Homo sapiens: one gene and its partners. The protein of the gene in region 1 interacts with the protein of each later gene in a pairwise test. Each region holds a gene or a part of one and is shown on either strand. Other genes may lie near its edges. The genes, in order: ELAVL4, ZNF639, TTC33 and PHF20L1.

The links.
Region 2: the proteins of ELAVL4 (region 1) and ZNF639 interact in binary tests that used the Homo sapiens proteins (3 or more experiments, as listed by UniProt).
Region 3: the proteins of ELAVL4 (region 1) and TTC33 interact in binary tests that used the Homo sapiens proteins (3 or more experiments, as listed by UniProt).
Region 4: the proteins of ELAVL4 (region 1) and PHF20L1 interact in a two-hybrid assay, tested with the Homo sapiens proteins (one large-scale study listed by BioGRID and IntAct).

The regions. Positions count from the first base shown.
Region 1 is NC_000001.11:50,188,645-50,192,571, forward strand, and holds part of ELAVL4 (ELAV-like protein 4), read left to right. Parts: intron 1-3,927. UniProt on the Homo sapiens protein: RNA-binding protein that is involved in the post-transcriptional regulation of mRNAs. Plays a role in the regulation of mRNA stability, alternative splicing and translation.
Region 2 is NC_000003.12:179,325,839-179,329,765, reverse strand, and holds part of ZNF639 (zinc finger protein 639), read right to left. Parts: intron 2,802-3,927; exon of another isoform or gene 2,422-2,801; intron 2,206-2,421; 5' UTR 2,135-2,205; intron 1,484-2,134; 5' UTR 1,473-1,483; coding exon 1,415-1,472; intron 149-1,414; coding exon 38-148; intron 1-37. UniProt on the Homo sapiens protein: Binds DNA and may function as a transcriptional repressor.
Region 3 is NC_000005.10:40,728,257-40,732,183, forward strand, and holds part of TTC33 (tetratricopeptide repeat protein 33), read right to left. Parts: intron 2,088-3,927; coding exon 2,006-2,087; intron 221-2,005; coding exon 89-220; intron 1-88.
Region 4 is NC_000008.11:132,834,077-132,838,003, reverse strand, and holds part of PHF20L1 (PHD finger protein 20-like protein 1), read right to left. Parts: intron 1,465-3,927; coding exon 1,283-1,464; intron 293-1,282; coding exon 193-292; intron 1-192.

The DNA of each region.
Region 1 (3,927 bases):
ACAGGCCGAGAGCAGAGCCTGCCCCCATAAGACTGAGAGCCTGGAACAGAATGTGTGCTTCCAGCTGGCGTCTGGCTCCCAGAAGGGAAGAAGCAGGCAGCATTTGAGCCTCACATGCCCATTTCTTTTATTGAAGCCTCCATTCAGAGGAGTCACTTCTTTTCCCTGGGGAAGAGTGGATGAAGGGATAGCAATAGGCCTGGTCTGTTGCTGCAGGGGGTTCTCTCCACATGGAAGGAAACACTGGGAGTGGGAAATGAGTATCTCCCTGTTGGAAGCAGCCCTCTGTATTGCATGCTTCATTTGTTTACTTTCCTTTCCAGACTGGGATTCGTGAAGCAGAGACATTCCCAACACCCATCCCAGGGCCTGGCACATAGTAGATGTTTAGGAAGGGGAGGAATGAATGAACTCCCATCTTCTAATGCCAGTGTTTTTCTAAAGGAGCAATTTTCTGGGGCTAAAAAGGATGCCTTTTCCCTCTCATTTTATCCTCCTCATTGCACCCAACATGCCTTTATCGTGTTTTCCATGTCCTCTCCCTTTTCTGTATTATGGAGGACAGACAAGGAGTGAGGTATTGCTGGATGATTCAGGGAACATTCTTCCTCAGGTCATGCTGTTCTTCCCACCCTGCCCAGGCCAAGCCCTGTGTATGAACAGGTAAAGGGAGTTGTGGGTGCTGCATGGGAAGAGGCAGCCCTCAGCCCTCGTCCTGATGCCCCATCTGTGATGAATGACAACGCCTGCTTTACCCACCTTGGTGAGACTTGCTGAGAGCAGAATTGGGAAGTCACTTTGGAAAGTGGAAAGTACTTTGTCGGCATAAAGCAGTGGGATCTGTGGAAATGTGTTAGAGGACATTCATGTCAGTAAAGTGGTAAAAGATGGTCCAGACCCCACCAGGGTGGCAGAGGAGGGCAGTGCCTCTACAGGCATTCCCTGGTAGTGTTCCACATGTTTTTTTTGTTTGTTTTTTGGGGGTTTTTTTCCGGTGAAATTGGAGGGTATGTCCCAATGGGAGCTAGATTCCCAGGCTGGCCCACAAAAGCCTGTATGACTCATCACATAATAATATGTGTAAGTATCTACTAAGTTCTAGGTATGTGCTAGACAAATATATCAACTCAGTTCTTACAATAACCCATCAAAGGATAATTGACCCCCTTTTTACGAGCAAAGATGTTGAGACTTATCAAGATCAAATTACTTGCCTAAGGTCATGCAGCTAGTGAGTACTGGAGCTGACCCACAGTCAGGGATCATAAGCATGATGCTATAGCATCCTTCTGGTGGAGGATGGGAAGACTGTGAGCACCAGGGATGGGGAGAGCTGAGGAGCTTGGAGGGACTTCAGATCTTCCATAGAGATCATCTGTAAAGTCAGCTGCTTACAGTCACCTGGCTTTGAGCCACCCCTACCCAGAGAGAGGAGTGGCTTCTTCACTCCCAGCCCTTTCTGAGTTCCAGAAGGAGGTCAGTGCTGGCCTAGAGATGCCAGTCTTGTCTTCAGAGATTCTGGATGAATGAAGCAAACAGGATCCTGACTGAGGCAAGGGGGGTTCTCCAGGGCGCTGGCTCCAGTGTTGGAAGCCCTGTGACTCCAGGCCACTGGCCCAGGGGCATTAATATGCCATCAATGCTGACCCTGAAAATTGGCAATTTTTTGGAAATCTTTCAGCCTAACCAAGGGCCTGACCACTGTAGTCATTCAGTTAGAATTTAATACATGTATATGGAAAGTTGAAAATTTTAGGTACTAGGATGAACATTTGGATATTCAATGCAGGAAGATCTTTTTTCTGTCATTTTTGTTTATCCATACGCCACAGGTTTCATGGACAGGAAACTGAGAGAACAATAGACTTAAGGTTCCATATAGGTGAGAAATACTAAACAGGAATTAGACTTGGTAGAGAATGATTGATGTGCTGTTCACCTTTGGGATTTGTTGCTGCCTTTGGGGATTTAGGGTCTGTCTCTGGAGATGTGTTGCAGTAATTCTCCCTAGCTGAGATTCTACCTATGTTGGAATCAACTTTTGGGGAAATGGTTTTTGTTGTGTCACCAACTTTCAAGTGCCAGCTCCTCTTCCCTGGCAGGGTTCACCCTGTTCCCTCTGTACCCTAGCTCTGGCTGTGCAGAACTAATGGGAGTTAAGGTCATGACTATCCATTATGCATTTATTGGGTGCCAGGTACTGTGCTAAGCCCTTGATCTTCATCACCTCATTTGTCCTCGTGACAGAGGAAGGCTATTATCAGGCCACCATTACCTGACTCCACCACCACCTTTCTCACCACCAGTCTCAGCTCAGCTGTGTCTCCTTCCCGGCCCTTTTAACCTTTGATTAATCTCTCCCTCCTCTGTGTTTTAGTCACACTCATATGTATCCCTGGCATAACACACACATCTTGTGGCACTGTGATAATTGGTCTGTATGTTTACTCATCCATTCTTTTGTTCAACACATTTTATTGAGTGCCTCTTATGTGTTGTCTGTTGCCCTCTTTGGACTTGGAGTTCCTTTACAGCAAGAGACTATGCCTTGTTCTTGCTGTGTTGCCAACACATACCACTGTACCTGGCTCATAGTAGATCCTCAGGAAATATTTGCTAAGAGAAGGCCTCTATGTGAGGTCTAGTCCTAGAACAATCTTCTTTCAGTCCTTCCAGCCCCAGGCATTGGAAAATGGGAAATATGTCCCTTAGCTCTTAGCTTGGTGGAGAAACACAGCTGGGATTCTGGGTGCCTGACTCTCAGTGGTCCACCTTACTGGAGTTACAGTTAACTCCAAAGAGCCAATAATATCAACATCATTTCTCATGAGCTGTGGGTGTTTATTCATTTTTTCAGTAGGTGTTGAACACTTTATAGGTATCAGGCTATGTGCTGGGAGCTAGAGTCACAGAGTTGAATAGGACACACACACACACAAGACCTACAACCTAAAGAGATCATCAGCCTAGATGGAGAGGTGGTCAGTTAAGGTTGAAACGGGTTAAGTACCATGGTTCATTGAGAACACTGCTGGGGAGATTTTTAGGAGAAGGTGAGATTAGAGAAAGCTGCCTAGAGAAGATGTCATTTGATCTGAGCCCTGAAGAGGAGTAGGATTTGGACTTGAGGAAGTAGGTATAAAAAAAATGTCTGTATGAGCAAAGGTATAAAGGTGGTAGGTTGTGTTTTGAGGGAGCACAAATGTCATTCGGATAATTAATTTGTCAGTAATTGGCAAGGTGAAACAAGGGTGACCCTCATTGCCATGGGCATATCACTATGATGTTTTTATTTCCTTCTTCCACTTCTTCCTCTTACTCAAAAAATAGTTCTGCTATTGACACACTTTGTCCCTTAAAGAACAGGGGTGGGAGAACCTTCTGTGGAGTGAAGCCCTGTCCAGACAGTCACATGGGGTTCTTAGTCCTTCAGCCCACACTGCAAATGCACACACTGGGACCCCCTATATAAAGGCCCCTCTACATCTCAGCCATGTGCTGAGAAGGAGCCCACAGAGGCCTCCCAGCCCACCCGTGAGTTTCTAGAAGATGGAGATACTGAAGGCAGCTGCCTCACTCCATCAGCAGGAGGAGGCCAGGGAGGCAGATTAGTCACTCACATCATTTTATCTGTTGAGTCAACATCTATTTTTAGGCATGGAACCCATAAAGGGACCTGGCATGTCTGTCATGGAAAGGGGGAGAGTGCCATGGATGAGGGTTCTGCTCATCCTTCATCTTCTTTGCTAGACCCATTCTCTCCCCTGAAGGTCACAGAAGCAGGGTCCACATTACTGCTGGAGGTTTAGGTCTTAATGTCAAAGGTCTGGTTTAATGTGTTCAATTCCTTTTGCACACATGCTTTTGTGTGCACGCACACACACACACACACACACACACACACACACACACACACACACTCTCACC
Region 2 (3,927 bases), on another chromosome or scaffold:
GTTTAAAGAAACATATTTTCGAAAATATTAGATATACCTTTGTTGTCAAAATATTTTAAATCTGGCTGTCTCATAGAACAGACACTGTAACAATGATCAGAGAAAATTCCATTGAATCCATCTGCAATTCTGCTTATTCCAGAGGAATCTGAACATAAAATGAAAAATATTTCAAGTACAGTAAACATACATATTTAATGAGAAACTTCCCGTTATCTAACTTATACAAATGTTCTTAATGTTAATTATAGTATCTGTAATGAAAATATTATACATTTTCAACTTTTAAAGCTTTTATATTTCAGATCCAATATTGACATAGGACTTTGAAAGAACCACAAATTACATACTCTAAAACATAACAACTTTGAAATATACAAGGATACATTTGTTTTATACTCAGAATCACACAAAATAAAAATATATGATAAACACTGTATTAACTGCACAAAACAGTGAAATAAACACCAGGAAGGTGTGCCATGTCATGCAGAGAAAGGTTGTTACATAGGGGAAATGGTAAGGACCACTTAGGGCTTCTGAATATAGTCATTTCAAGTGTTGTCTAGGAAGGGCCAGTAAGCAGTATACTAGGGTTAATTTCTTCAGATATGAAGAATGTGTAGGCTGGGTAGACTAATAGGTAAGACTGAGATGGTCCCAAGTAAATGTATGCGAGGTGTATTAGAGATGGCCACAAAGACCCCTTTTCTTATACTGCCAACACAGCAGAGCCAACCTCAATGAAAGGATCTAAAATTACACAGTCATCCAGCCTGGGCAGCATGGTGAAACCCCATCTCTACTTTAACACTACAAAAAATTAGCCAGGTGTGGCGGTACACGCCTGTAATCCCAGCTACTTGGGAGGCTGAGGCAGGAGAATCACTTGAACCCAGAAAGCAGAGGTTGCAGTGAGCTGACATCACACCATGGCACTCCAGCCTGGGCTAGAGAGTGAGACTCTGTCTCAAAAAAAAAAAAAAAAAAATTACACATTCAGCATGAAAGTTTACATTTCCTAAAGTAATAAAGAGGATAAAGTCTTTTTTCCCCAATAATGTAAAATATTTTCTACCAAGGTTGTCATTATTGGGTCTTAAGCACAGCTTAGGTATCAGACATGCAAATCCCAATTATGTTATATAAGTAAATAACCTTGGCTATCTAATTTTAAATATTTATAACCCATAGAGCTGTGAGGAATAATATAATGTCTGTAAAGTTCTTATGTGTGCCTAGCACATGGTAGACAATAAGGAATATATATTCAGATAATGTATTTAAACCGTTGTTTTACCTAAATATTGACCCAGATATTTAAGTCTTATCTGATCACTTAGGAGAAAATGGATGAGAATATAATTTTGTGGGAATTAATCCATACCCAACTTTAAAATAATTATACACTGACCTGAATAACGAGAAGGGTGTAGAGTCTTCCTTTTTCTTTTTTTAGGATACTCATTCATATCTTTTCAATCTAAAAAACGAGAAAAAATTAACAAATATGTCACAAATAACAACTGTTAATGACGTTATAAAAATTCTAACTGAAGAATTTATTGGCAATATGAAATATGTGAGCCACCTGAAAATCTATGGTATAAGAAAAGTGTTAAATGATGCCTCTGTTTGTATTTCAGATTGTTTTCCAGTCAGGTTTCAAGGCAGAAACTGATTTCTGTTTTCTTTCTTACGGAGGTTAAAAAATTCTTTTTCAAATGTTGATATAAATTGTGAGAACTGGATAATTACAATAAACCACATGTTTAAGTCATTTTATTTTGTGTATATATAAAAAAAGAAACACTGTGCCTATGGCACCATACTAGGAGTTTTATAGGCACATTTCCTACCATTGGAAGTATTTTTAGGTAGTTTTCAAGCTAAAGGCGGAGACATTTCCTTTAAAAAAATATTGTCACAAATATGTATCGGCCTCCTGGCTTCCAGAAAAAAGTACTCATCACACAGATCAGAATATAAATAATTTTCAAGAAAAAAATCATTTTCCTATTTATGAGGTCACATTCAACGTTCCACTGAGAACACAACACATGCAGCAACCACTATCCAATTAAATTCTCATTAACTGTTACAAAATTAATTAGTTTCAATACAGTCCACTTACTTGGTATAATTCTTACTACTGGAGTGAGGAAAAATGAATTACAATAAGTTTCTGTAGACAGTAAAAAATGCCTGTAAGTAAAACATGAAAGAAGTTATTAAGCAAAAATACAGCTCATTTCTGGTACTGAATAATACAATGGCACCAGATCTTTAATCAATTGGAAAGTTATACAGAACTAATTAAGATATATTATTTTGAAAACAATGTACTACATACTAAAAACTGTATATCTTGATAAATATGTGATTATATGCAAATTTCCACATTTCTTTGAAATGATTTACCTTCTATAGTTCTTTTTTTTTGAGACAGTCTCATGCCTGACCTATAGTTAAATCTTTTGACACCAAAATAGGACTATGAATCTGAATTAATTTATTCATCCATAAGGAAAGCAAGCATAATGAAAGCAAACCAAATTATAAACTTTTTGTTTTTGAGACCGAGTTTTGCTCTTGTTACCCAGGCTGGAGTGCAATGGCGCGATCTCAGCTCACTGCAACCTCTGCCTCCTGGGTTAAAGCGATTCTCCTGCCTCAGCCTCCCAAGTAGCTGGGATTACAGGCATGTGGCACCACACCGGGCTAATTTTTCTATTTTTAGCAGAGACGGGGTTTCACCATGTTGGCCAGGCTGGTCTCAAACTCCTGACCTCAGGTGATCCACCCACCTGGGCCTCCCAAAGTGCTGGGATTACAGGCGTGAGTCACCTTGCCTGGCCCAAATTATAAACTTTAAACTGTTACAGCCCTTATAGATTATTTATTTAAGAAATAAAAGATCGAGACCAGCCTGGCCAATATGGTGAAATCCCGTCTCTGCTAAAAATACAAAAATCAGCCGGGTGTGATGGTGCGCACCTGCAATCCCAGTTACTCAAGAGGCTGAGGCAGGAGAATGGCTTGAACCTGGGAGGCGGAGGGCTACAGTGAGCTGACATCGTGCCACTGCACTCCAGCCTGGGCAACAGAGCAAGACTCTCTCTCAAAAACAAAAAATCAAAACAAAACAAAAAAAGAAAAAAGTAAAAGTGATAATAATAATTTACTGACCACCAATTATGTACCAGGCTGTGAACATACTTTATCTCATTTAATCCTATGTAATCGTATGAGATGCAAAATTCACATCACCCTCTCAAAATTATAGTTCCTGTTATTGAGGAAACTGAGGCACAGTAAAGTCAAAGCTAGATACTCAGTAAATGCTGGGGTTGGGATTTGAATAAAGGTTTACCCAACTTTATTTATTAATCTATTTATTTATTTGAAACGGAGTCTTGCTCTGTCACCCAGGCTGGAGTGCAGTGGCACGATCTTGGCTCATTGCAACCTCTGCCTCCCCAGCTCAAGCGATTCTCCTGCTTCAGCCTCCTGAGTGGCCGGGATTACGGGCGCCCGCCAGCAGGAGGCTGGGATTACAGGTACCCGCCAGCACACCCAGCTAATTTTTGTATTTTTAGTAGAGACGGGGGTTTACTATGTTAGCCAGGCTGGTCTTGAACTCCTGACCTCAAGTGATCCGCCCACCTCAGCCTCCCAAAGTGCTGGGATTACAGGCACGAGGCACCGCGCCCGGCCTATAATGCTCTTAACACCAAGGTGATACACATGACAGGTGTTCTAGCTGAGGTGCACATACTATTTTTGCTGCTTCACTAAGTTCTGGGTATATCAGCACTGAAGTGATATAATACAGCAGGGAATGAGATAGTGCTTTTTCAGTTTATTTTATTTTTACTTTTTTTTCGGACAGAGTCTCGCTCTTTCGCCCAGGCTGGAGTGCAGTGG
Region 3 (3,927 bases), on another chromosome or scaffold:
CTGGGTGACATCAAGACTCCATCTCAAAAAAAAAAAAAAGTCAAAATATACTTAAAATTTCTGCATTATAATAATCTGACTTCCTCACCAGGATTATCTCTCCTAAACCAAGTTGAGCACGTCCCAAAGTCTGCCAAGACTCCCATGAATGTGGATTTTGCTGGACGGCCATTTCTGCTGCATGTACTGCTGGGAACATTTCATGAAGAGACATTAGCACCTATAGGCAAAAAAAGACCAAAAAATCTGTCAGTAATATTCATAAACTAGCAACTACATAAAAAACCCTTTTCATTTTTTAAGATATATTTTTAGTCCAGTAAAAATAGCATTTCGGTGATTTTTACCCCTTACTCTGCCATTCAGGGTAAGAAATTATAGTTCTCTTTTCACCCCTTATATAACTATGAAAATGTAAACGATTCCCTTTCCAGTTATTGAATCTTATGTCCATCTGGTCAAAACCAAGTGGTCATATCCTAACTATGGTGGCTCAGAGGTATTTTGAACTCCCAATTCCACTTCCATTTATTCTATTTACAATGTGGTTTTCAGGGAACCCCAGGTATTGCCATTAAACTAGGTGAATTAATTTGTTCAACCAGCCATCCCGTCCCTAATGAACATCTTTATGTTATAAAAAGTATTTAAAACATTCCCTAGGCCTTCTCACTACTGGGCATTTCAAACCATACATACTAGGAAGGTAGGGTTAGGGTTAGGGTTAGGGTTAGGGAGAGTTAGGGTTACCAGAGAGTTCTAGTACCCTCCACTGTGGTCTGTGGGAAGAGGCTGGATTTTATCTATAATCTTTAGGACCATTAACACTTTAAAAGATTTGTGATACAAACATTATTATCAGGTTCCAAATTAAACAAGTCTTCATAAAGCTTGCCACAAACCTGTCATTCATATATACATATTTAAGATTGAAAAAGGAATACAAATGAAGGTCCTCATATCACTTGATTCAGATGACATAATTTATTTGGGTTTTTCCTGGATAAACTAAAGTCAAAGGTGACAAATGTGTGTCCTATATTTGAGATCACGATTTGAAAAATATTTGTTAGGTGTGCAGATTAAGGCTGAATTGCAACAATTCCCTGCCAAAAATATGTTTAATGCTCTGTGTGAGACTTTTAAAATCACTTGGATAACCTATTCAAGTGCTCAAAGGTTTTCTTTACAGACTTTCCTACAAAATATTAGAAACATGTTTTTAAAGTACAAATGTTATTTTTAAGCTATTAATAAAATTGCATCTATGCTGACCTTTTGCTAAGGACTAAGCCATTTTTAGAAATATCTCATCTAGAACCCAATCCATCCTCATTTTTAAGAAAACTGAACTATTTTGCTAAGTCTACTATATTTAATCACAAGGAAAGCGTATGTTTTTCATCTAAGAGCTCAACAGTGACTTTTTATTTATTTTTTATTTACTTATTTATTTTTTTGAGATGGAGTCTCGCTGTGTCACCCAGGCTGGAGTGCAGTGGCACTATCTCAGCTCACTGCAACCTCCGCCTCCCACGTTCAAGTGGTCCTCCTGCCTCAGCCTCTCAAGTAGCTGGGACTACAGGCATGTGCCACCACGCCCAGCTAATATTTGTATTTTTAGTAGAGGCAAGGTTTCACCATGTTGGTCAGGGTGGTCTCGAACTTCTGACCTCAAGTGATCCACCCACCTCGGCCTCCCAAATTGCTGGGATTACAGACGTGAGCCATGGCACCTGCCCACCAGTGACTTTAAAAGATAGCCACCGATTCCTATCTTACAATAGTTAGGCTAAAATAACAGTTAACTTCATTGTAAAGGCAAATGAATTTCCAGTTTTATGCATAAGACAGAACCATAAATAATGGTGAAATATTTTTTCCCAAAGAAACCGTATTTGTAAAAGAAAATGGGAGAAAATGCTATTTTGCTTCATCATTGCTCACTCACCGAACAAACATAGCACAATTTCATAAGGAAAGTGAAATTCTTCATAATTATTACCTGTGATTTCATCTCGTATAGGGTAGCATCATTTGGAGTTAACTGTAGTGCTTCATCCCACTTCTGAATTGCCTCCCGATATCTGTGGTTGTTAAAGTTATATCAATGCCATATTTTCAATATGCTTTTTTGGACTTTCAAAAAAAAATTTTTATTGTAGTAAAATATAAAATTTACCATCTTAACCATTTAAGTGTACAGTTCAGAGGCATTAAGTAGCATTAAGTACATATAGTTCATTCACCTTTGTGTGCAACCACCACCACCATTCATCTCCAGAACTTTTTCATCTTCCCAAACTGAAACTCCATACCCATTAAACAATAACTCCTCATTGCCCCCTCCTCCACCCCCGGGCAAACACCATTCTACTCTTAGACTGCTTTCAGGAGGAGCAGTCATGTACTTTCAGTTCAACAGTTTTTTGGACTACTTTCTAGTCCATGAAATATATGTAAAAATCCAAAATAAAGGATTAGCAAATTAAGTCCAGCAACTTACTAAAGTACAAAATCCACATGATCATGTAGTGTATGCTCAGAAAAACTTAGAAATGGGTTCATATGTAACAGATAAGGGAGAAAAAAGTACATGCCACTAAACAATACTTAGTATAATTTAACACCCATTTCTGATTATTTATAATAATAATAAAAGTATATACAACATTAAATAAATTTAGTACTGTGGTGCCATCATCTACTAAGCTTTAATGATATAACCTCTAAAAGCAGTAACTATATCACCTAAAAAGAAAGTACTTGCACTTCTTTAGGCATATTGTGGGTGATTTCAAGCCTCTCTAAACAATATTTCCAAATGTTATTGTAGATGTGACAGGAAAAACTTTGGAAATTAATTTATTGATGTATTCCTTCATAACAATCCTTCCACTCACAATTTTCTAACAAAGGTAGCAGTAATAAATTCTGCAAGACTTAATAGTAGCAAATGTCTTTCCTCCAGCATTAGAAGGAAAAGGTTGGACTGTTTGTCCAATCTTTTTTCTACCACTCCCTACACATACCTGTGCTCCACTCAGCAGGGTTTTTATAGTCCCTACCCACATATCATGCCTTTGTTAGTATGGATCCCCTGCTACACATACACACACACACATCTGTATTAGTTCACTCTCACGCTGCAATAAAGAACTGCCCAAGACTAGGAAATTTATAAAGGAAAGAGGTTTAATTGACTCAGTACCACAGGGCTGGGGAGGCCTCAGGAAACTTACAAGGATGGCAGAAGGGGAAGCAAACACATCCTTCTTCACATGGAGGCACGAGAGAGAAATGAGCGCTGAGCAAACAGGGAAGCCCCTTATAAATCCATAAGATCTCGTGAGAACTCAGTGTCATGAGACCAGCATGGCAGAAACTGCCGCCATAATTCAATTATCTCCACCTGGTCCCATCCTTGACACGGGGATTATTACAATTCAAGGTGAGATTTGGGTGGGGACACAGAGCCAAACCATATCACATATCTAAGATTGCCTTCCTACTCCTCTTCATCTATTCAAAGGCTCCTCCTCTAAGACCAAGTTAAAATGCTCCGTTCTTCATGAAGACCTCCTCCAGTGGCTCTAGCCCACTAACTATGAGTACCACTTCAGACCACATAGCAACACTTATATTTCCAAAGCATTTTATGTTTTACAAAGCACTTTCAATACAATTATTTAACATACAATTATTTTCCCAAAAAGTTAATTCACTTACTACTCAAAGTAAGTGAATATAAATTTGGTGTTATTTGCTTTTTTAAAAATTATTTTGAGAGACAGAGTCTTGCTCCGTTGCACTGGCATGATCACAGCTCATTGCAGCCTTGAACTCTTGGGCTCAAGGGCCTCCCACCTCAGCCTACTGAGTAGCTAGGACTACAGGCATATGCCACTATGGCCAGCTAATTTTTTT
Region 4 (3,927 bases), on another chromosome or scaffold:
AATTGATACATACAAGTTAAGTTCCTATGGCATATAGCATGCTGTTTCATTTGGAGTCACAGTTTCCAAGAACCTATCAATGACATCATGTGAGAACTTGCTGTAGTGGTGGTGAACACAGCTGATACACTCTGGAATCCTGGAGGAGACATAGAGGCATCCTGGCAATCAGCACGGCACAGAAAGCCTTACCTGGTGGGTCCCGGCAGATATAGCAGATGTACTGCTCTGGAATGCTCTCCTCCAGCAGCCCCATGCACACGCTGTGTTGCCAACACAAGCACTCTTCACACTGCAGAAAACAGAGGAGTATTACAGTCACCCGATCCTCACTAGGAATAAGCTAGGAATAAGGATACATGCCCTTTCTTTGAATTGGCTGGCTTGGCTTCTTACTGCCACTATCAGTTTCATACTTATTTGACACAACAAAATCAAGCCATGACTTAAGATGAATTTTATCTTTGAAATGGTCAACTACTTCACGAACTTTCTTTTGTTGCACCTATTAGAATATGCTTTGATCAAGTACTTAAGTCATAATTTCTCTAATTTAATTCTCACTGATATTTAGGCAATCATATCATAAAACTCTTAAAATAGTTTATTAAAATGCGGAAATTAGGGGAAAAAAAAGTTGGTAGCAGTGTCTATACCAATGATCTCTTAAAGTACTACTTCTGTGGTGAAGTTATAAATTCATAGTTCCCTCCATAAAACCACAGAAAAATGGGAGGAAAAAAGATTACTCTTTCTTCATGCTCTCAACTAACATCTCCAAATCTTCTGGCATCACAAAATTTGGGTTATGCTTTCCTTTTATCTTAAAGATATCTTTCCTACAAGAAGAAGTTGTTAACTCCTGCAACAAAATTTTTCCTTTAAGAATACTGGACATTTTTATGTTTTAATCACTGACAAGTGAAGGGTGACTATAAATTATTATTATAATAATTCACATGAATGCAGATGAGGAAGAGAAAGGTTGCTGTAGCCTGCCCTTTCGTGTGAGGGTTTACCACCCTAATCACTCTAAAGAGTTTCAGTTTGAAGGCACTGAACTACATACCCTAGAAAAGGAAGAGAGATGCTAAAATAAGAACATTGTCTACTTTACTTAATGAGGAAATCTCCTAATCATTACTATGGGTATTTTCCACACAGTAAGTTAGAAACCACTATCTTCAGTAGTACAGTCAGTAAAGAAATAAAACACCGTGATGCATTTGCTGAGCACCTGAAACAACTAACTCATTATAGGGAAGAGAGGTTAACCAATTACCTGGATCATGAAGCCATTCTCCTCATCCATCTCACAAATACATCGCACAATTTCATTAAGAGCATCATCCTCATCCTGAGATTCCTCAAAATTGGTTGAATCAAAGTCCTGATTGTATTCATCCCCACTCAGAAGCAAACTCTCCGTTGAAGAATCATCTAGGAAGTCTACATCTGATAAGTCTAGAATATATACAAAAAGTATACTTAGAACAACTTTTCTATTTTCATGTTATTTTTCATAAAGAAAGGAGCTATGAGAAGTGAACATAAGCTATTAAACATTTTAAAAAGGGGGAGCAAACAAATAAGAATACTGTACTGTACTTGTCTCTGGACATGGAAACAAAAGATTTTTGAAGCTTAGGTAATTATGACTGCTTTATATCTTATAGTATACACTATTATAAGTAACTCAAAGTGTCTTTTAGACTTCATGCTTACAGAATTTATGGCTAAGGCTGATGTCAATAAATTTGCACAGTTTCCATACACTTTCACAAACATTATCCCTTCTGACCCTCATAAAAACCCTGTGTTGTCCCCTTGTGATTTCATAGTATCAGTGTGACACCACTGTCCGTGGACCTGGGGACAGGTGTGTGTAGTAAGCCCCCATTAGCCAGCACAAGCTGGCTCTAGCACACCACTGATTCTTCATTCTTTTTCTTCTTTCTTTTTTGGATTAATAAAGTGCTTTTTGAAAAATCACTTAAAAAAAAAAACTCTGAATTGTAAAGAGGACGGGTTTTATTATTCATACTATAAACAACTTCAGAGAGGTAAAGGAGCTTGCCTAGGGTCTAAAATCAACAATAGCATTATTGACAGTATCAGCAGCATCAACTACTATAGCACTTAGTAAGCACACAGTGCTATATTAAGCACTTTAAACACAGGATATATAACTTGCTTGAGAAACGCAGCCATGGAGTGGGAAAACCAACTGAATACCAGGAATGCCTGATTCTCAAGCCTGTGTTCTTAATGACTTTACCAGTATTTCTTAAAACCGGAACCGTGAGTTCCCCAAGGGATTTTTAAAATGTATTAATTTCGTCTTGGTAAAAATATATTTTTAGATTAAGCATATCCTAGAAACAAGACTATATGGATGACTACTACATACAACTCAATTTACATGTCAGGTTTTAGGCGTGTGTGTATAATAGTGACAATGCCAAAGCCTACCATTTTGCTCAGGTTACTGAGGAAAAGAAAATTGAGACAGACACGGGGGAATCTTTATTTATAACAATGGAAAGTAAATGATGATGGAACACTAAAATTTTTGCAGTAGTTTGGATGGAGAAATGTTAGGAAAACTGAGTCATCATGAGAAACAGAACATCGTATAATGCTGTGTGAGCTCCTGACAGAGGCTAATCAGCAGAGCACCTTCCTACCTCACATCCTATCCCCTAGCCACATTCTGAGTTATCTCTTCACTTGCTTATCATCTGTCTTCTCTTACTAGAATATCAGAATCCATGACAGCAAGAACTTTGCATTGTTGAATGCTACATCCCCAGTTATTAGAATGAGGCCTGATATATAATATAGCCACTCCAGAATGTTTGTAGAAGAACTAAGGAGAGAGTCAGAGAGAGAATATTTTCTTTTCAGACTTAATCAGATGGGACCGAAGTTGAACAGATTTGAACTTTAAAAATTCACGCTATTTATACTCTACATTTTTCACATGATTTAGTGTTTCCTCTATCAGCTTCTAATCTTGCTTACTTTTTTCTTCATTCAATGTTTTTGAATGTTTTGTTGTTGATTAATGTTTTATAGAAAAATAAAGTTTTCTTCTCTTTGAAGTCACAGGGACATACGGAAGGAAGGTCAGCAGAAATAGATAATAAAGAAATATCTGAAAATATTCATGGAGCTAGTAAATCAACTAGATATGGAAAATCTAGTATGAACAGTATAACTTGTTTTAAAAGAACCTAAAGAGGAAAATTTCACCCATCCATAATCTTGCTGGCTTAAATCCAAATTTTCTTTTGGGCTTTCTCAAGTTCATTGGAATGTGGGTAAAACAGTTTCAAACACTGTTGCAGCATATAAACAGTATTAAATGGGCCGGGCACAGCGGCTCACACCTCTAGTCCCAGCACTTTGGGAGGCCGTGGTGAGAGGATCACTTTAAGTTAGGAGTTTGAAACCAGCCTGTACAACAAAGCAAGCCCTCATCTCTACAAAAGCAAAAATAATTTGCTAGGCATGATGACCTGTGCTGGTAGTCTTAGCTACTCAGGAGGCTGAGGCAAGAGGATTGCTTGAGCCAAGGAGTTTGAGGCTGCAATGAACTACGATCACACCAGTATTTCAGCCTAGGCAACAGAGCAAGATCTTGCCTCAATAAATAAATAAATAAAAATTAATTTGAAATTATATCATTGAAAGGAATTAGTGTATCTCACATATACTTGCATGGCAAAGATTACCAGTTTTATGGTGTTAGCAAGCAAATTTATCATATTCTCCACAAATCTAGTTTGAATAACTCCCAAGCATTAAACTTATGCTTAGCTGAGTTTTGGAAGTTGAGTAAAATGGATGACAGAGCTGAAAGTTATGTAAGAAGCAAATAAAAGTTCCCCCTTACGCTTGAATAGCCACCTAGACAATGGCTCC